3 linked regions of the Homo sapiens genome follow. The protein of the gene in region 1 interacts with the protein of each later gene in a pairwise test. Each region holds a gene or a part of one and is shown on either strand. Other genes may lie near its edges.

The links.
Region 2: the proteins of KRT39 (region 1) and CLCNKA interact in binary tests that used the Homo sapiens proteins (3 or more experiments, as listed by UniProt).
Region 3: the proteins of KRT39 (region 1) and IGFN1 interact in binary tests that used the Homo sapiens proteins (3 or more experiments, as listed by UniProt).

What each region holds. Positions count from the first base shown.
Region 1 is NC_000017.11:40,957,548-40,964,057, reverse strand, and holds the end of KRT39 (keratin, type I cytoskeletal 39), read left to right. Parts: intron 1-274; coding exon 275-431; intron 432-1,494; coding exon 1,495-1,656; intron 1,657-1,770; coding exon 1,771-1,896; intron 1,897-3,556; coding exon 3,557-3,777; intron 3,778-5,198; coding exon 5,199-5,457; 3' UTR 5,458-5,641; downstream 5,642-6,510. UniProt on the Homo sapiens protein: May play a role in late hair differentiation.
Region 2 is NC_000001.11:16,025,014-16,032,491, forward strand, and holds part of CLCNKA (chloride channel protein ClC-Ka), read left to right. Parts: intron 1-1,094; coding exon 1,095-1,234; intron 1,235-1,522; coding exon 1,523-1,600; intron 1,601-1,683; coding exon 1,684-1,762; intron 1,763-2,296; coding exon 2,297-2,422; intron 2,423-2,807; coding exon 2,808-2,892; intron 2,893-3,004; coding exon 3,005-3,106; intron 3,107-3,747; coding exon 3,748-3,832; intron 3,833-4,112; coding exon 4,113-4,286; intron 4,287-4,717; coding exon 4,718-4,787; intron 4,788-4,951; coding exon 4,952-5,062; intron 5,063-5,447; coding exon 5,448-5,661; intron 5,662-6,696; coding exon 6,697-6,830; intron 6,831-7,189; coding exon 7,190-7,278; intron 7,279-7,429; coding exon 7,430-7,478. UniProt on the Homo sapiens protein: Anion-selective channel permeable to small monovalent anions with ion selectivity for chloride > bromide > nitrate > iodide. Forms a homodimeric channel where each subunit has its own ion conduction pathway.
Region 3 is NC_000001.11:201,221,802-201,229,279, reverse strand, and holds the end of IGFN1 (immunoglobulin-like and fibronectin type III domain-containing protein 1), read right to left. Parts: intron 6,542-7,478; coding exon 6,453-6,541; intron 4,602-6,452; coding exon 4,406-4,601; intron 3,457-4,405; coding exon 3,157-3,456; intron 2,399-3,156; coding exon 2,072-2,398; intron 895-2,071; coding exon 881-894; 3' UTR 328-880; downstream 1-327.

The DNA of each region.
Region 1 (6,510 bases):
TTCACTTACATTGCATTGCCACTAGGGGCAGAGGAAGGACAATAAATTCCCATATCTCAAAGAACAGCAATGTAGATCCCCCTAGCAAACTAATTTGGGAATAATAATTAAGTTATGATCTATATCAAATGGTTTCACCTCCAAAGAGAATAAAACTTCTAATAGAAATACACTAAGTGAGGTGCCCAGAGCAAAATGCAGATGAGAGTTCTGCTTGGCTTGGTTTGCATCATCTCCTTTCAGATGTCTCTCTTTTCCCATCTGGTTTTTAAAGATACGAAGCTGAGGTGTCTCTACGCCAGCTGGTAGAGTCAGATGCCAATGGCCTCAAGCAGATCCTGAATGTGCTGACCCTGGGCAAGGCCGACCTAGAGGCACAAGTCCAGTCTCTGAAAGAGGAGCTCCTTTGCCTCAAGAACAACCACAAAGAGGTGAGACAAAGACCAATAGAGTAATCACAAGCTAAGTCCCTAAAAGTAGCATCAGTTCCTTTGAGTTGCACCTGACAAAGGGTGTGCCCGCTTGTATTAGTTCGTTCTCACACTGCTATAAAGAAATAACTGAGAGTAGGTAATTTATAAAGGACAGAAGTGTAACTGAGTCACAGTTCCACATGGCTGGGGAGGCCTCAGGAAACTTACAATCATGGCTTAAGGGGAAGCAGGCACATCTCACTTGGCAGCAGGAGACAGAGAGAGACCAAAGGGGGAAGAGCCCTTTATAAAACTATCAGATCTTGTGAGAACTCACTCACTATCCTAAGAACAGCATGGGGGACACCACCCCCATGATCCAATCTCCTCCCACTAGGTCCCTCCCTTGACACATGGGAATTATGGGAATTACAATTCGAGATGAGATTTGGGTGGGGACACAGAGCCAAACCACTGCTACGTACTACTCTGGTTTAGCCCTGAAAATACCTACTGCTACTAGCACTGGTTCAAGGTAGTATTTCAAATCCACTGGCTCCAACACAATATCTGGAGCCATAAGGGGAAGAAAGGCCTCCAACATCCCCTCCAGCTTTTCTACAAGAAGGAACCCAATTTTTCTGTCCTTACAGTCTTCCCATGTTTGTAGGCATCCCTATACAGGCTTCTGCCACCTCCCATTGGTACAAGTCAATATTGGTGCAAGTCAATATTGGCACAATCCCGTATTTGCACCATAGAGACTATAATCTCTCATGATCAATTCCACCTTTATCCTGTTTCACCCATTATCCAGCCCTGGAAATGATCTAAATTTTTTGGAACTCTGGTCTTGCTACTCATTTTTTTTTAATTTTGCACACATTTAAACACACAGTCCTACCTGAAAGAGTCTTAAATCATTTTATAGCATCTCAATAACACCTGTAAATCATGTATTCCTTTGTTGTGGGCTATATTTTAGACACAATTAAGCTAAATCGTAGCAGTTAGAGTGAAACAAGAACACAAAGGGGTTATCTGTTCACCAAGTGACTTCACAGTCTTTTTCTTTCCTTAGGAAATCAATTCTTTACAGTGTCAGCTTGGGGAGAGACTTGACATTGAAGTGACTGCTGCCCCTTCTGCTGACCTAAACCAGGTTCTACAAGAAATGAGATGTCAATATGAGCCCATCATGGAGACAAACCGCAAAGATGTGGAACAGTGGTTCAACACGCAGGTGGGGGATATAGAAAAGTCAAAAACAATAAGCTGATGCTGCATTTCTAGGGCCCTTTAATCAAAGTCATGTTTTCCTCCCATAATATTCTCAGTCTCTGGCTGTGTGTTTCAGATAGAGGAGCTGAATCAACAAGTGGTGACCAGCTCTCAACAGCAGCAATGCTGCCAAAAGGAGATCATAGAACTGAGACGCAGTGTGAACACTCTGGAGGTTGAACTGCAGGCCCAGCATCGAATGGTACTGAGCAAGCTGACCAAGCCTAGCTCAGCAAAGATGGAAACAGTCCCTTACACCTGTGTGCTGCAGTATTTCCCAAACTGTGTCTTTCAGAACAATAGTTCCTCATTTGTTAAAGCGTCTATGGCTGAAAAAGAGCTTTGTGGCCAAATAAGTCTACGAAACGCTGCACTAAACCAAGGTTAAACAGGGTGCCTTCCTGTGAGCCATTAATAAGCTAATATACACCATGAATCTCCAGGAAGGGGGTATATGGTATTCAGCATTCCAAAACTTATTTGACTGTGGATCCCCCCACTTTTTTTAGAACATCTCATGGTATTAATGATTCATGAAGTACACTTTGGGAAACACTGGGAGAGCATTTTATTATATGCAAAGCATTTTTACAAGCTATCACATGAGATTTATAAAGCAATCCTAAGAGGGGGGGTGGCATAATTATTAACGAATGTTACAGATGAGGCTCCAAGAGCTAAAGTGATTTTCCCAAGCAAATCCAAGGTAAGTTTCAGCCCACCTATTTTATAGAGACACTGAGATCCTGAGACATTAAGAAACTCATCCAAAGTCACAAAAGAAATAAGAGTCTGAGCCAGAGTTTAGATTCCAAAGCCAGTATCATTCTGTCTCATGATAATGCCTCTCTGAAGTAGAGAATTGCTTACATGCTCTGATGTGAAGGCTTTTGGGAAGACCTTGCCCCACACTGGTTTTGTCACCAGCTAGTCATGTGACCTTGGACAACATATTGAACCACTTGAACCTCAGTTTTCTCATCTATAAAAATTGGGATAATCATGCAAATAATAGGCTATTAAAACCTAAAATCCCATCATTATCCATAGACTTACAGAATGATAGAGCAGGAATGAAATTTACTCATCAGTTTCAACTTTCATATTTTACATATAAAGGAATTGATCTGGTGGATAAATTGTATATGGTAAAACATTGCTTCCTTCCTTTTTTAAGACACGAACACTCACTGAATGAAGTGCCATGGTAATGCTTTTTTTTTTTTTTCTTTTTGAGATGGAGTCTCACTCTGTCGCCCAGACTGGACAGCAGTGGCACGATCTCGGGTCACTGCAACCTCCACCTCCCGGGTTCAAGCAATTCTCTGCCTTAGCCTCCCAAGTAGCTGGGATTACAGGTGCCCACCAGAACACCCAGCTAATTTTTTGTATTTTTAGTAGAGACGGGGTTTCACCATCTTGGCCAGGCTGGTCTTGAACTCCTGACCTTGTGATCCACCCACCTGGGCCTCCCAAAGTGCTGGGATTATAGGCGTGAGCCACTGCGCCCAGCCAGTAATGCATTTTTAATGCCTGGGTGTGCATTAAGTTATTATTTTTTCTCTCCTAAGTAGGAAAGTGTGGTGCGAGACTATTGGTTGGTCAAGAAAGAGAAAGTGAAACAAATACTTACAGAGAAGCAAAAAGAGAAAGAGAGAAAGAGGGAAGAGATAAAGGAAAGCAGATTTTAGCATAGTTGATCATTTGGGTTTTGGATTTATTTGATTAGGAAACAATAAATAAAGTGCTTGGAGATCTATCAGTAGTGTCACAAAGAAACCATTTTTTTTAAATGATACAGGTCACAGGTGACCTGGGCTTAAAGGAGTCATTATAAATCCTACTATCCTTCTCCATGGTAGAGAGATTCCCAAGAGTGCATCCTAACGGAGACAGAGGCTCGCTACACGGCCTTGCTGACCCAGATCCAGAGTCTGATTGATAACCTGGAAGCTCAGCTGGCAGAGATCCGGTGTGCCCTGGAAAGACAGAACCAAGAATACGAGATCCTGCTGGACGTCAAGTCCCGGCTGGAATGTGAGATTACCACATACCGCAGCCTTCTGGAGAGCTCGGATGGCAAGTATGTAAAATAACAGCAACTTCTATGACAAAAAAGTGTAAATGAACGCAGATATATGTACTGCCACTGGCAACAGGGGTCAAGTGCTTTGTTTGACCTTCTTGCCAGTGATGGGGAGCTTGGACAGAGGCATCCACACACCCTCTCAAGCTGTGCCATGAGGAAGACTTGCAATTGTAACCTTATCCAAATTTGAGGCATTGGCTGACCTGAGCTGTTCTGAAGAGCCCATGGGCCAGGTTAATTTCTTATAGGTTGCTTACCTTCTTAGAGTTTTAAAAATTACTAGAGAAAAAATTATTTCCCCATAGATGAATATTCCTGGTGACCATTACAGATGTTTCCCCACTGAGATGAACGTCTGATTTTCATGAGCTTGTACAAAACAACCCAGGCTCCTTTGGAGGAACATTCTGCTCAGGCTGAAACCCCTAACCCTATCTAGCCACTAGTCCTTGAGGCCAACAGAAGCATGTACACATGTATGTTTTAGCATCTTTTTTAAAAAATAAAAGTTATAATTTTTGTAAGCAATAAGAAGCTAACCAACCCATAAGTAAACATATATGGAGGATGAGTTCTTTGAAGCAACTCAGTCCAAACTAAAACCCCAGAGACTTAGTTACAATTGCAAAGGAGACCTACTTCCCGAAAATAATCAGTGAACTCTTCACAGCATTCTTTTAATTGGCATGACCACATTATGTGAGCACAATGGTCATCAATGCTGTCACCTTTAGGAGCTGTGATCATATACCAAAATACCTCGAATCATCAAAGAAAGATTATGTTTATAAAAAGAGTGTTTACTATGAACTGCTTTTTACTTCAGTTCTCTAAAAACTATGCATAGACAGCCAGAAGGCACTTTGAAGCTTCCTGATGACACAGTGAGGACTCTTTCATAGCTGGGGTTCAGGCCACCACTATTAGTATGACTAACTCCTCAATGAGAAAAATATCTGGTTAATTTCCATTCCTCGGATAATAATGCCCTCAACTTGTTCCTTATCACTGTTGATCCTGTGGGTTTAGTTTCCATTATATCCATTCTGCAGATGAAAAACTAAAGGTTGAGTGCGTTAAATGACTTAGCTGAGGTCACCAGCTGGTAAAGGACAGAGCTGGTCTCTGCCTCAGTCTTTTGACTGCTAGTGCAGTATTCTTTCCACAATGTGATGGTATTGACTAATGGAAACTTACATAATCGAATACTTCTAAACCTAGGATGCTGATTTCCAATGGATTTAATCTGATTCTTTTTCTTCCAGTAACTACAGTACAAAATAAATGAATAAGCATTTAGAAGTATGTACTTGTCTTGAGCAACACGTGTTAAAAAAATTAGCCACAATCATTTTTCTCCATGACCATCATCGCCTTCCCTCAATCACAGCTAAAATTGTGTTTTTTTTCCTTAGGCGTCCCTGTTACCCACGTGCCACCAAATGTGAGCCTTCCCCTTGGACATCTTGTAAGTCCGGAGCCATAGAAAGCACGGCCCCAGCTTGCACATCCTCATCCCCCTGCAGCTTAAAGGAGCACTGCAGTGCCTGCGGACCCCTGTCCCGGATACTGGTTAAAATTTGCACCATCACCAAGGAGATTAAGGATGGGAAGGTCATTTCTTCTTACGAGCATGTGCAGCCTTGTTTCATCATCAGACCTGCCAAAGTCTAACATCCCAAGGTGATGAAAATGACCCACATTTATGAAACAGAGGCCAATACATGCTCCTGCCAGAGAGGTTTAAGAAAACTCCCCAGTCCCTTAAGGTACTTAGTTTCTTACTACTACAGCGGGTCCCCATTGCTAGGTAGAATATCTTTTATTCTGCTCCTTCCCTAACTCACCACTGCTAACATGATAATAAATTACATTTCTCTGGAAGGATGTTTTGCATTTATCTGAGGGATGGGAACTGATTTGTAAGCACCCAGGAAGATGGCCTACATTGCTTGACTACCCAGGTGATTGATGGGCAGGTCTCTCTCTTGTTTACTCAGGCCTTGTTTACCGACATTCCTCCTTAGAGCCAGTCAGACAAGTTTAGGGTTGTTTTTGGCCACCGGCACCTGAAGGTGAAAAGCTACAACCTTCCCTTCTAAATGTCTTTGGATACAGAAAGAAACATATATGGGAACAGTATAAATAGGGGAAAAGATCTTTAATATTTAATTCACTTGTGTAGATAGTCACGAGTATGGATCCTATTAAACTCTGCTGTCTTAATTATGATTTATCTATACTAACATACTTTACCTTTCCAAAGATATTTTTTTAAATGTCCATGGTCTCCAAAACTTTGTGACCTATTAGGCTCTCCAAATATTTTATTTGAGAATCAGATAAGTTGTGGGGAGTGAATCTAGAACACTTTGAAGAAATAGCATGGGTCTTTTCATTAAACATTTGCTATTTCTCTTTCTATTCTTTAGGGAATGGGAGTTTGTTCTGATTGTTTGACAAGGAACATTTAGCTGGAATTCTCAAGAAATAACCCTTCTTCCCCTCCCTGTGAAGAGTGACAAAGAAAAACATAGCTTAGATTCCTGCTTCAATCTATCCATCAGAGTAAATGGACATAATATCCACACATTTTGCAGAAAAGCAATAGTGAATAATTGCTGCTTGTAAGTGCAAGGCAGTCCCAATGTGAGAAGGCATCATTTATATACCAGCCATCATCACAGCTTCTTACAGGATAGTCTCAGAATATGTAAGTCATTCCTG
Region 2 (7,478 bases), on another chromosome or scaffold:
TTGCCTGAAGGCACACAGCAAGAAGGCCAGATCTTGACTCTTGGGTCACTGCTGGCCCTACTCGCTTTCCAAGGGCTCCTTGGAAGGAGATTGCCCTGTGGGGCCTGTGCTGGTGCCAGGAAGGGGCCCATGGAGGAGGTGCCGCTCCCTCAGGCCACTCAGCCCTTCCTCCAGCTCCAGGCCAGCAGAGGGGAGCTCCAGGCTCACTCAGTGGTGGCCTGAGGTTCTGTTCAGAGCTCCCCCATCCTGACACAGCCATCTGCCAGTCCCAGTGGGAGGAACGTGGACAACTCGCATTCCTCTCTGACTCTAGCATCCAAATCTGCAAAATGAGTTTATGCATCCTAACCTCTGAGGGTTCTGCGTGATCATAATAGGACTAGGTGCAGTGACTCAGTCTATAATCCCAGCACTTTGGGAGGTGGGTGGATCACTTGATCCCAGGTGTTCAAGAGCAGCTTGGACAACATGGTGAAACCCCATCTCTACAAAAAATAAAAAACAACCACCACAACAAAAAGTTAGCCAGGTGTGGTGGTGCCTGCCTGTAGTCCCAGCTACTTGGAAGGCTGAGGTGGGAGGATCACTTTTGAGCCTGAGGAAGTCGGGGTTATAATGAGCCGAGATCGAACCACTGCATTCCAGCCTGGACAATAGGGTGATACCCTGTCTCAAAGGAAAAAAAAAAATCATAATGTGAAAACACCGTGCGGGTAGAGTTATGAGAGTTTTTTTTGTTTGTTTGTTCGTTTGTTTTTGAGATGGAGTTTCACTCTTGTTGCCCAAGGTGGAGTGCAATGGCACAATCTTGGCTCACTGCAACCTCTGCCTCCCAGGTTCAAGCAATTCTCCTGCCTCAGCCTCCCAAGTAGCTGGGACTGCAGGCACCCGCCACCATGCCCGGCTAATTTTTTGTATCTTTAGTAGAGATGGGGTTTCACCATGTTGGCAAGGCTGGTCTCGAACTCCTGACCTCGCGATCCGCCTGCCTCGGCCTCCCAAAGTGCTGGGATTACAGGCGTGAGCCACTGCGCCTGGCAGAGAGTTTTAATCTAGAGATTGTCCCCTGCTTGTTCCTGTCCTGTCTGGCTAAGGTTCTGGAATCCCGGAGCTGAAGACCATGTTGGCGGGTGTGATCTTGGAGGACTACCTGGATATCAAGAACTTTGGGGCCAAGGTGGTGGGCCTCTCCTGCACCCTGGCCACCGGCAGCACCCTGTTCCTGGGCAAAGTGGTATGGTCAGGTGTGAGGGCACCCCAGCCACCCCGCCCACCCTACCCTGCCCCAGCTCTCCCCCATACCCCACCAAAGCTGGGTCAGAGCAGACTCAGGCCAGTGCCTGCCTTCAGGGAGCTCAGTCTTAGGGGAAGAGCCAGGCCAGGTCCCCAGTGTGACAAAAGCTACCTGAGGACAGCCCTGGGGGTTGGGGAGATGGAGGAGGGGGTGTGGTGGGGAAGCCGTGCTGCCTCGGGGTGAGACTGTCTCTGCTGCCCTCACCTGGGCCCACCCTTCCCTCTGCAGGGCCCTTTCGTGCACCTGTCTGTAATGATCGCTGCCTACCTGGGCCGTGTGCGCACCACGACCATCGGGGAGCCTGAGGTTAGGGACTCGGGGGCTTCCTTGGAGAAATGGGAGTGGGGAGGGAGGGGGCTGACTCTGAGCCCTGGACTCGGATCCCCCAGAACAAGAGCAAGCAAAACGAAATGCTGGTGGCAGCGGCGGCAGTGGGCGTGGCCACAGTCTTTGCAGCTCCCTTCAGCGGTGAGACCCCCCTCATGCCCCGCCCCCTGGGTCCCTCAAGCTCCTCCCCTCACACCCTGGGCTCCCTCGGCCCAGCTGAGAGCCTGGAGGAGGGGATGGGGCTCATTCTTGTTCTCACTTCAGCCCCGCTTTGGGTATAGCCACCCCCCGGGGGCGGCGGGGCGGGGCGGGTGGTTGGGGGCGTGGTTGGGCGGTGCTGAGAGGCTTCAGGATAACATTACACAGACTTGGGTTTGAAATCCACTGGCCCCTTGGCCTCTCTGAGCGCAGCTTCCTCCTCTGTAAAATGGGGATCAAACCGTTCCCACCCGATAGGGAGAGGGCGCACACCTGCATTCCAGGCTGGATGGATCCCTGGGCAGCGGGGTCCTCCCCGCCCAGGGCGCAAGCCCTGCCCTCCCCTTCTGTCTGTCCCTGTCCGGGCTGTAGGACAGCAGGACAGATGGCTCAGGGAGGAGGCGAGATGGGGGAGGGGGCCCTACAGCCACAGGTGGGTGGGGGTGGGGGCCCACCTGACATCAGTGTCGCCCCCAGGCGTCCTGTTCAGCATCGAGGTCATGTCTTCCCACTTCTCTGTCCGGGATTACTGGAGGGGCTTCTTTGCGGCCACCTGCGGGGCCTTCATATTCCGGCTCCTGGCAGTCTTCAACAGCGAGCAGGGTGAGCCCCCTGGGCTGCCTGACCCTGGCCCTGCCTGGGGGCCGGGGCGAGGGAGACCTCCCTTCTCCTCTGTGTACATCTCTTGCTCTTCCCTTCCCTCTCTCTCCCTCTTTTCCCTCCTCCGTGTTCCCACCTCCTTCAGGGAGGATGGAAGGGGCTGACCTGTGTTGAGCCCCTGACCTGTGTTGAGGGGCAAGGGGCCCTGAGGGTAGAAGGGATGAGGCTGGGCAGGGAGGCAAGAGCCTGGTTGTGGGGGCCTGGAATGCCAGGACACAGATTCCGAGTCAGGACCTGGCACCCCCTCCACCCTGGGCTGTTAGTCTGGGACTTGAGTTTGGGTCGGGTGGGAGCGCCATCTTGGCTCCCCACTGCCCTCCTTCCCCAGAGACCATCACCTCCCTCTACAAGACCAGTTTCCGGGTGGACGTTCCCTTCGACCTGCCTGAGATCTTCTTTTTTGTGGCGCTGGGGTGAGTGGGTGCCTTGGGCCCCTGAGAGTCCAAAAGGCATTCCCCCCAAGGCCTGGACTGCGGCCCCTGGTACTGGGGTCAGGCTCTGGTCTTACCTCCCTTCACCCCGCAGTGGCATCTGCGGCGTCCTGAGCTGTGCTTACCTCTTCTGTCAGCGAACCTTCCTCAGCTTCATCAAGACCAATCGGTACAGCTCCAAACTGCTGGCTACTAGGTAGGCTCTGGGCTAGGGGCTGGGGACATCTCAGTGAGTCCCTTGTGGACTCCAGACCTTATGTAGAAAGCCCCACCCCCATCCTCCCACTGAGCCCCTAAATCCCTCCCTAGCCCGTGGAGCATCTAACAACCCTCTCCAAGTCCCCACAGTCACTGTCCCCCCTTCCTTACTGGGCTACGAACCCCACATTGAACCCCCATCCCTCCTTCATTCTACAATCTCTCAGCGAAACCCCACCCCCTCACTGAGCCTCAAACCCTGTGCCCCTTCAAACCTTGTGTGGCCCCTGGCGTTGGCCTTGGCATTGGCCAGCCCTCCTGCCCCGGAGATGCACATGGCCCGCCCCGGCCCGGCCCACTGTCTCCTCCCTCCTAGCCTGCCTCTGCCCCAATTCTCCTCTCAATCTCCTGCGTGATTCCTCTGCCCTCAGTCATACCCAGTTGAGGGGCTCACCCCACGGGTTCTACCCGCTGGAGGGGGCCATGTTCCCTGCTCCCGCCCTTCCTCCTCACCAGTCCTTGCCTCGGTATCAGCCCCCAGGTGGGGAGCTCTGCTGCTGCCTGGACCAGGTCCTACTTCCCTCTCCTCGGGATGTAGGAAAGGGAGGGCCAGCCCTAGAGCTCACCCACCCCCCACAGCAAGCCTGTGTACTCCGCTCTGGCCACCTTGCTTCTCGCCTCCATCACCTACCCGCCTGGTGTGGGCCACTTCCTAGCTTCTCGGGTAAGGGGTCCTGAGCGGGGGTGGCAGGAGTGGGAACCCCCATTTGTTTTCCCCTTTGCATGTGTCTCACGTAATACCCTCAGCACCCCACCAGGGTGACACCTGGGCATCATTCTGCAGATAAGGAGACCATGGCTCTGGGAGGTCAGAGCCCTGCCCAAGGCCCCCCGCTGGGAAGTGGCAGGGGAGGATTCCAGGCGGGGTCAGGCGGTGCGGGGGAGGCTGGGGTCTGCCGCTGGGGGGGGCCCCTCATGTCCAGTTCCCACCTGCCCCGCCACAGCTGTCCATGAAGCAGCATCTGGACTCGCTGTTCGACAACCACTCCTGGGCGCTGATGACCCAGAACTCCAGCCCACCCTGGCCCGAGGAGCTCGACCCCCAGCACCTTTGGTGGGAATGGTACCACCCGCGGTTCACCATCTTTGGGACCCTTGCCTTCTTCCTGGTTATGAAGGTGGGCCCCCTGACCCCCAGGTGTGCACAGAGCCAGGACCAGCTCTGGTGGGGAGGGGCGGGGGTGCCTCCCTGCACCTGGTGGCATGGAGCCCAGGCCTCTCACCCACACTTCCTTCTGTGCCCCCTGCCCACTGCATGGTCCTGGATAAGTGGCTTCAGGTCTCTGGACCTCAGTCTTCCCATCTTTAAAATGGGGTGGTTACTGGGAAGGCAGAGAAGGAAGAAAGGAATGTACCTGGCACAGTGCCAGGCATACAGTGGGCATTTCTCAGGGTGAGGACCCTCCCCTAATGCCAGACTCTGGCAGTGGGTGCATGGCTGGCACCCTCTTTCTATCTAGGACACTCCCCTGTCCCCTGTCCTGTCTTCTCTTGTCCACACCTTGCCCAGCGGCCTCTAACCTCTGCCCTGGGCTCCCCCTTCCTGCAGTTCTGGATGCTGATTCTGGCCACCACCATCCCCATGCCTGCCGGGTACTTCATGCCCATCTTTATCCTTGGTGAGTCTGGGGTCCTGAGGTTCTGAGAGTTTTGGGGTTCTTGGGGCAGGGCCATGCATCCTGGTTCACCCTCTTCCCGGGTGGTACTAAGGATGGTCCTCAGGGATGGAGGGCTGTGGGGGCCGGGTCAGCCTGGCTCCCCCTCACCCTAAGTCTGTGGCCAGGAGCTGCCATCGGGCGCCTCTTGGGAGAGGCTCTTGCCGTCGCCTTCCCTGAGGGCATTGTGACTGGAGGGGTTACCAATCCCATCATGCCCGGGGGGTATGCTCTGGCAGGTGAGTGGGTCACGGCCCTGCTGGGTGGGCAATGTCGTGGGGCTGGGCTGGACCTGGAGAATTGGCTGGTGGTTCCCCAGGGCACGGAGCAGTCACTGAGTCCTCCAGTGAACCCCCTACCCCTCATGGGGGTCTGTCCCTCCTGAGCCCCACCATTCCCCGGGGCCCATCACTTCCTCGTGGCTCCTGTCCCCAGCCCTGCGGCCTCCCTTATCCCTCTCCTCTCACCAAGCCCAGGCCTTGGGGCACTTCCCACAGTGCCCAGGCTGTGGCCTCTTACAATTCCCACCCTAGCCCCCGGCAGCAGCCAGGCTAGTTATTCCCTCACATCAGGCTGGCCCCTGCCTCCTGGCCTGAGCCGACCTGTGTGGCTCTGCCCCGGCAGGGGCTGCAGCCTTCTCAGGGGCTGTGACCCACACCATCTCCACGGCGCTGCTGGCCTTTGAGCTGACCGGCCAGATAGTGCATGCACTGCCCGTGCTGATGGCGGTGCTGGCAGCCAACGCCATTGCACAGAGCTGCCAGCCCTCCTTCTATGATGGCACCATCATTGTCAAGAAGCTGCCATACCTGCCACGGATTCTGGGCCGCAACATCGGGTGAGTGGTGCCCACCTCAGGCTGACTGAAGGGGGTCACAGTGTTTGGGCTTGGCTGGGGGTGGAGGGCACCTCCAAAAAGAAACACCACCGCAGCTGACCTCCGACATGGGGGCTGGGAGGGGCTGACACACAGCTGTGCTCTCATCTCCACTCTCCCCAGTGCCCTGGGTGACCTTGGGCAAGTCCTTGGCCTTGAGGCCTCAGTGTCTGTCTAGGGGTCAGCTGGGCTTCACAGCAGGAGGATGAGTATTGCCCCGTGTACAGATTGAGGAAACCAGAGCTCAGAGAGGTGCCGTGTCTTGCTCCAGGTGACACAGAGAGTCAGCACCAGATCCGAGAGGTCTCCTCCCCTCTCCCCACTCCTGCTGTCCTTGCTGGGACTTTGGGAGCAGGAGGTGGAACGAGAATGGAAATGGGCTTTGAAGTCCTCACTCAACCAGATAGGACCAGAGCAGCTTCTGGCGCCAGAAAAGCAGACCAAAGAGGCTCTGAGAGTCCGAATCGGAGGCCCCGCTCCAAACACAAACAAGCTGCTGCCTTGCTCTGAACCTGTTTCCCCATCGGGAAAATGGGGCTGTTTATACCAGTGATTTTCAACCTTCCAAGTTTTTCCTTGGGGGTGACATACACTTTTATAATCAAATGGAATTATCCAGGGAAGGCTGCTGGGTCTGTACTCCAATCTCATTATTCATTAATGGATGGCCAGTCACTGACCACCTGGCAGATACTGGTTTTCCGTCATCTCACACTCAGCTCTGTCCAAGGTGGGACAAGACCCAAGTGAAGCTGGTCTGGGGGACATGGGGGACCAGGGGGTTGGGGATTTGGAACTGGGCCATCAGTAATGTGGTCCCCAGGTTTCCTCCCACTGTGGGTTCTAGGAGTCCCTCATTCCAGGAACCTCTCCAGCCCTGCTCACACTCCAGAGCCGTGGGTCCCTGGTTCAAGCAAAGCTCCCCTCAGATCCCCTTGCTGGCCTGGGTCTGACATCCCCGACTCCGGGACCTGATGGGAGCCCCTCTGCCTGCAGCTCCCACCATGTGAGGGTGGAGCACTTCATGAACCACAGCATCACCACACTGGCCAAGGACACGCCGCTGGAGGAGGTGGTCAAGGTTGTGACCTCCACAGACGTGACCGAGTATCCCCTGGTGGAGAGCACAGGTGCCCAGCTGGAAGGGAGGAGGAAGTCGGGGGTAGGGGATGCCCTCTGCCTCCTTCTTGAACCTGTCAGGCAGACAGGATCTGCATCCAGGCTCTGTGACTTAGCAACCAACCGTGTGACCTTGAGCAAGTCACTTCACCTGAGCCTCAGTTTCCTCATCAGCAAAATGGAAATCATGGCTACCCTCCCTTGGGGTGGTTGACATGTCTAAAGAGAGTCGGCTGGGTGCTTGTAAGGCAGTCCCTGGGCAGCTGCTGGGGTAGGAGCATGGGGACACCACCAAGGTCTTCCGGAAGCTTGGCCCTCAGGCCTGTTTCTTCATAATGCACCTCCCTCCCTCTCCCTCTCTACTTGCCAGAGTCCCAGATCCTGGTAGGCATCGTGCAGAGGGCCCAGCTGGTGCAGGCCCTCCAGGCTGAGCCTCCTTCCAGGGCTCCAGGACACCAGGTGGTTACTCCTGAGGGGCGTGGGGATGGGGCGGGGGTGGGTCAGCAGGGATGGGAGGGGAGGGACCCGCTGATCTCCTGAGGGAGAGGTGGTCTGAGAGAGGCATCCTGGGGAGGCCGGCCCTGCACCCATAACTCTTCCCCACTCCCAGCAGTGTCTCCAGGACATCTTGGCCAGGGGCTGCCCCACGGAACCAGTGA
Region 3 (7,478 bases), on another chromosome or scaffold:
GGCAACCCCAGCCCTGTGGTCCCCACACACGTAACACCTGGGGAGGCCTCCAGCCCTGCTGCTCACAGGATTTCTGCCAGTCAGAAGAGTGCAGGAAACAAAGGCCAGGAGGAAGAGAAGCCTCTCCATTACCCTCTAACCCTTCTTGGCTTTCTCGCCCTTGCAATCAACTATGTAGGCCTGGGCTGCAGGAGAAGAGTCCAGTTCTGAGCCCGTTCTTCCTCTATCCAGAACCCACCCATCCTCCCAACTGAAGCCTGGAATAAAGGCTCCGCTTTGGAAATCTTTCCTCCAACACACCCACCCCAAGTAAATTTGCCAATGATCTGCCTGTATTAGCCTAATGTTTTAATGAAGAAACGCATAGAAAGCACTTGCTGCACCCCTGGAATCTCTTGAATCCAGGAGGTGGAGGCTGCCCCCACCCACACACACGACCTTGATGCCCTAGTCCTCACCCAGGTCCTCTGACCTCCTCTCCTCTTCCCTCCCAGTGGTCACAGCAGGCCCAGCTGTGCCCACCCTCCCTCCAAACGGCTCAGCCCAGGAAAATAAGGAGCCGGCCCATCCTGCAGGCAGGTGCCCTCTGGATCTCCTGAAGCGAAGAAGAAAGAAACCCATATGGTGAGGGTCCAGGAGGTTCGCTGTCATTCTGTTGAGTGACTTAGCTTGGAGCCAGGAGGTGGAATGCCCTCCTCCCTTGTTTTTCTTCCCCAAGGACTTCACGTCCTCCTGGCCAAAACCTCGCCAGGCATCTTCTCACTCCCATTTTCCTGGGGCTCTGGGCACAGCCTCCATCCTTGGGATTGGCTTCCCGGGCCAGTGCAGGTGTCGGAAGTGAAGCTTCAAGGGTCCAGGACCATCCCAGGGTGAGGTGAGGCTAGGTGCTGGGTTCTGCAAGACACAGGATATTCCAGTTGGTTCAGAGGGGCAGCCACCCCACCCTGCATCTGTTCAGTGGTGAAGAAAACTCAGAATGGGGCTTAGACTACAGGCTCTGCCATCAGGGGGTGTGGGTTCAAATCTGGAGCCACCACGTGCTCTCTAAGCTTGGGCAAAGCCCTTTGCTGGCCCCTCGGGGAACCATAATCACCCCCAATGCCATCTTCGTTCCGGGACTACATGTGTACACAAGCTGGGGTGTTTCGAGAGTGGCTTCCTAAATGCCTAAGCACAGGTGCTACAGAGAGGAGAGATGCTCTGCTCCAGTGCAAAGGGGCCGTTTTTCCACAAAGGTCAATTGAGGCTTGCCTTTTATTGCTATTCAAAATATAAGGTGTTTTAAGTACTATCGAAGGAAAAACCTTTATTAACATATATATCTGTGCTACTGAAAAGGAGACTACCAATGAGAGAATCAGCATGGCTTTCTAGGCACTAAGTGTTCATATCTTGACATACTTAAGAAACAGCAATACGGATGCCTGTTCATCTCTCAGCCTGCAATGTGTAGCGTGGCCCCACTGGGAAGCTTAGGTGAGCAGTACACAGCCCTTCAATCAAGAGTTGCTCACCAAGTTCAAATACCTCATTTTAAAAGTGGGCAAATCTGCCGGGCACAGTGGCTCACACCTGTAATCCTAGCTCTTTGGGAGGCCGAGGCGGGTGGATCACCTGAGGTCAGGAGTTTGAGACCAGTCTGGCCAATATGATGAAACCCCCCTTCTATTAAAAATACAAAAAAATCCGCCAGGTGTGGTGGCGGATGCCTGTAATCCCAGCTATTCAGGAGGCTGAGGCAGGAGAATCTCTTGAATCCAGGAGGTGGAGGCTGCAGTGAGCCGAGATCATGCCATTGCACTCCAACCTGGGCAACAAGAGCGAAACTCCGTCTCAAAAAAAAAAAAACTAAAAATAAAAATAAATTTTTTAAAAAGTGGGCAAATAAAGACCACATGTGGGCCGGTGTTGGTAGGTTAAATAGCTGAAAGTTCATAGAGTCAGGCAGAGAGTCCTGGTCTCCTGACTCCCGGCTGAATCCCTCTAGGCACCCCCCGGAGCCTCCCTGACAGGCAGGTGGTTGCTCTCCTGGCTCTCCTTCCTGCCCCACTGCCAGGGCAGCCACCATTACCTATGACAATGAGGGTGGCAGTGCTGACTGCCTGGCCCAGCGTGTTCTCAGCCACAGCCTTGTACTCCCCGCTGTCCTTCGGGGATACGCTGGGGATGGTGAGGGAGCACACGCCCAGCAGGTCAGTGCTGTACACCGCGGGGTTTCCTTCCAGGCTGCGGTCATTCTTGAACCAGGTGACGTGGGGCCGGGGCGAGCCCTGCACGGCACAGCTCATGCAGCACTCGCAGCCCTGGGGCAGCAGGTGGGACCGCAGGCCCACCAGGAACCGGGGCTTCTGGCTCAGGTCGGGCTCCCGGTAGCACGGAGCCTTCACTGTGAACCTGTCTGTGGTGAAAGCCGGGGTGAGAGAAGAGGGTGAGAAAGCGAGGAAGGCCTGGCTGAGACCCGGGTCTGGGTAAAGAGTTCATGAAGCTACCATGTAGGCCTTATCTGGGATTTCCTGCCACATCTTGCCTGCAAATTTGGACCCCAAGGCTTGCCTCATTCTATCCTTTTCCTAAAATTCTTTATGGATTTTTTTTTGTAGCTAATACACATTCACTGTGGACAATTAGAATACACAGAGAATCAAAGGAGAAAGAATAAAAACCAAATCATAATCTCACTACCTATAGATGACTATAGCTGACATTCTGGTGTAGAGCTTTCCTGAAATTTTTGTATTTTATGAAAATGAAACCTTGATTTGATTTTATAGCCTGCTTTTCTGTGACTGATCTTAAGGTCCACATCTACTTTGCGGTAAAATATACACTTTGTTTTCAGAGAAACATTAACCTCTATTTGCCTTATTGTCTGTGGCTGCTTTTGAAAATCCTCCCAAAGGCACCTCAGACACCAAAACACCCACACCAATCTCATTCTTCCCACGGAGGTCGGGGTGCAGAGGATGCCAGAACAGGTGGGTGTGAGGCAGGAGCGGGAGGAGCAGCAGCTCGGGGCTGCTGGCTGTTATTTGGCATGCTCCAGGCCATCCCTGCCACAGTCCCTATCCTGCGCGCTTGCCATGCTTGGGTGCATCCCACTGCATTGCAGAGCGCAACCCCCACCCTGCCTGCTCCTCCCTCTCAGGGGCTGCTTACCGCGCTGCCGGGGGATGCACCAGGGCTGGCTGGTGTCCGAGGGTTTGCTGGCCCCCAGCTCATTCTTGGCCACCACCCTGAAGTGGTATTCGTGGCCGGGGAGGATGCCCAGGAGGGTGAAGCGGTTGGTGTGGATGCGGTCGGCTGCCTCGTGCCAGGGACCGTGCGCTGAGGAGCGTGTGAACACCGCGTAGTGCAGCGGGACATCCTGGGCCTCGTCAGGAGAGGGTTCCCACTCGGCCGTCACCGTCCCAGGCACGTTCTCCTGCAGGTGGATGGGCCCAGGGGCCTGCGGGCATGCTTCAGGAGAGACGGCAGAGGGAGGTCACGTGGAGGGGACCCAGCAGGGCTGCTACCAGCCCCCTCCAGGTCCCAGGACTTCTGAGGGTCCTGGGGAACGCAGTCTTGCCACACAAGTAGCTGGACCCAGAGTAAGCTTGGCCAGCGGTCCACAGTTATCTCTAGAGGGTAGAAAATCTCCCCAAAAGAGTAATTTTAATTCACTTCAGTGTGTTTGTTTGTTTGTTTTTTGAGACGGAGTCTGGCTCTGTCACCCAGGCTGGAGTGCAGTGGCACGATCTCGGCTCACTGCAAGCTCCAACTCCCGGGTTCACGCCATTCTCCTGCCTCAGCCTCCCAAGTAGCTGGGACTACAGGCGGCCACCACCACGCTCGGCTAATTTTTTGTATTTTTCGCAGAGATGGGGTTTCACTGAATTCACTTCAGTTTTTAAGTAAAATGACACAGGACAAGGCATGCATTTTTGGACAGAGGCAGGGCTCTCATGAAGCTGCATTACAGAGCCCCCACTGTTAGTCTATTTGATCATTTCTGGATATCCAGAAGCTCCTCCAGGGCAGGGGCTGTGTGGAGCCACAGCTGGGGAGGAAAGCCTTTATCCTGTGCAACGGCTGCAGACAATTTTGTCCCCTGGGTCTTTGGAGTGATGTAACAGTGGTAACCGCCTCTGCTCACTGACTCAACGGGAAGGATAACTGAGGTCGGAGAGGAGACATGACATGACTGTCTCTAGGCTCCTGAGGCAGAAGGACAATGGAAGTCCCCAGGGGATCTTCTGGGGTCCTTTCTACTTTCTATCATCAAGCATGGAGGAAAGGTGGAGAATGGTCACTTTGCATACCCAGCCCTGGTAGAGTGGCTGAGACCTATGATCAGACCAGTGGACACCTCTTTGCCTTGGTGAGTGGCCGAGCCAGCGTCCAGAGCCCAGAGCAAGGCCTGCCTCACCTGCCACCCTGATACGGAAGCTGTGGGCAACCTCCTTCCCCTGCAGGGTCCTCAGCACCACAGTGTAGAGACCACTGTCTGAGAGTCCAGCCACAGGGATCAGAAGCTGGGTGAGGCCATCCTTAGTGACAGTCACACTTCTTTTGGGCAAGGGCAAGCCATCCTTCAGCCAGGTCACCTCAGGCATGGGCATGGCCTGAGAAAGGAGAGGAAGGAAAAGTTGAGAAGGGGAAGCTGGCAGTTTCATGGAGGTGATGGCATTTAAGCTAGGCCAAAGGTAGAAGCGGTGAGAAGAGTCTTCTACAAGGAGAAAGTCGACCAGAAAACACAACGTCGACAAGAAAACACAGGTGGGAAAGAGGGGTGGTGATAAAGTGTGAGGTTGGCAGGCGGGTATGGTAGGGGGGCGGTAGAACAAGAAAGGAAGTTGGACGAAGAGGTTCGGCAAAAATGCAAAGTGCCCTCCACGTCACACCTCTACAGACATCTGGACATTATCCTCTCAGCCAGGAGCCGCTGTTGTCAGATTCTGAGCAGGAAAGCATAATGAGTTCTGGATTCACATGGCAGGGGGTGGGATGGGAATGAGAAGGGATGTGTGGGGAGGGGAGTGTTAACCACCCTGGCAGCCAAGACCATGTAGGAGATAATTTGGCAATAGTCTAGGAGGAAGATTGCGGTGTCCTGGCCTTGAACTGTGGTGACCCTGAGCAGGGTGGGAAGGCCAGCCCAGCTGCTTGGTGACCATGCCGTCAACTCCCTACGGGGCCCTCAGTACAGGGCACGGTGGGCACCAGAGTCAAACGAAGATGCTGATAGTCACTAACTGACCTCACAGGATTGTTCTGAGAATTTAAGGCGTTAATAATAAATACACGGAAAGCAGAGAGAACAAGGCCTAGGACATGGTAACTACTCAATGTGCATTAAATATTTTTGCCATCATTATCATTGTCATTATTGTGGTTAAGAACAAGTCATTTAGAGTAAGATAGACTGGTTTGAATTCCTACACAGATGATGATGATTTTAAACAATAATAATATTAAAACATATTGGGTGCTGTCATATGCCAGGCCCTACATATACACTTTCAATATATTAATTCCTTGAACCCTCAGACCTTTGAGGTAGGTTACTATTATTATCCCCTTTTGACAGATGAGGAAGGTGAAACACAGAGATGTTAAGATATTTGTTCTGGCTGGGCACAGTGGCTCACACTTGTAATCCCAGCACTTTGGGAGGCCGAGGTGGGCAGACTACGTGAGGTCAGGAGTTTGAGAGGCCAGCCTGGCCAACACGGCGAAACCCCATCTCTACTAAAAATACAAAAATTAGCCGGGCGTGATGGCATGCGCCTGTAATCCCAGCTACTTGGGAGGCTAAAGCAGGAGAATCGCTAGAACCCGGGAGGTGGAGGTTGCAGTAAGCCGAGATCGTGCCACTGCACTCCAGCCTGGGTGACAGAGTGAGACTCCATCTCAAAATAAATAAATAAATAAATAAATAAATAAATAAATAATATTTGTCCAAAGTCAAACGGCTGTGAGTGATGACATCAAAATTTGAACCCAGGCAGTTTGTACTTTTAGCCACCACCCTACTGTTGTAAAGTCAGGTGGTGTTGGTGTTGGTTAAGGATCACCCTGAGTCAAATATAGGTCATGTGCTTGCACAAAAATACATTGTGAAGTCAAAGGGGATCATCTGCACGACCGGCTCCCTGAATTCCCAGACTAGGAGAGGTGGAGAACCGAAGAGCCTTAGTTTGGAGGTGCAGTAGCTGAAGCTACCACTAGAGGGATTTGCAGGCCTGGAGCAGAATGGCCACCCAGCCGCCAAGTGAGGGCAGTACCTTCAAGGAGGACCTGAATCCTTCCTGCCTCATGTCTCTCACCTGATTTCCACAAGCCCAGTCAGTGATTTCCACAAGCACTGACTAGGGGCCAAAAAGGAACAGGGAAGAAAAGAGAGCCACAGGGCTGAGTCTGGCCCCCTTGGCCTCTCTGGGCTTCCCTCCCCACACCCCTGCAGGTACACTCACTTCAAAGGAGACGGGCACACGAACTGTGTCCCCGACCTTGACTGTCAGCAAGTCCTTGGTGCTGGAGTCCACGAGGAACTTGGGACAGACTGAAACGCACAAGAGGACTGGTTACCTCCCTCCTCCCTCACAGTTGGACCCCAGCCCCAGGTCCCCAGCAAGGTAGGGCTGGAGGGGAAGACTGGGCCAGTCGGATTGATGCTGAGATCCCAACATACTGGGGCCTCTAAAGGACTGGAGTACAGCTGGGAGCAGAATCTTCAGGGGAGACCCCAGGGGCTGATGGGGAGATGCTAGCGGGGGAGGGACAGGAGCTGAGAAAGGAACCCTGCAGGGAGAGGGGTGGACTAGGCTGGAACAGAGGAAGATGCAGACATGTGGCAGAGCGCTTATGTTTTGCAGATGAGATAAACACCAATCTAAGACAGGAAATGACTTGCCTGAGGTCACACCTTGTTCGGGAGAGAGCCAGGACAAGATTCTGGGACTTTGGACTCCGTGTGCTGTGTTTGTGACTCCCTACTGCCATAGTGATGACTAGGGTCAGCTGGGGTGGCCCAGTGTCAGCTTGGGTCAAAGGCAGATCAGGTGCTTGTGGTGGTTAAAGCCCAAAGGGAAAGACAATCCTCTTTTCAATAATAACGGGGAGCTGGGCATGTCCCATTCTGAACGTGAACCATGGGAGCTGAGCGGCCCTTAGGCCTTCGAAGGCCATGCCCGGGAAGCAGCCACTCTCTCTCCTACAGAACATCAACTTTGGAGTCTCCAGGTTTAAATCCTGGCTGTACCACATACCATTAGTGACAACTAGGGCAAAGTACCTTGAACCTCAGTTTCCTTCTCTGTAACTTCGGAATAAAAACATTAATATTGTAGTATAGTTATGAGTCGTAATGAGAAAACATTTCTAAGAAGGGACTGCCTAGCCCAGTACCTAGCACCTAGTAGGTGCTCAATAAATGTTACTTCCTGAAACTGAGGGTGGGGATCCTGGCTTAGTAAGTGCATTGCGGCTACTCAGGGGCC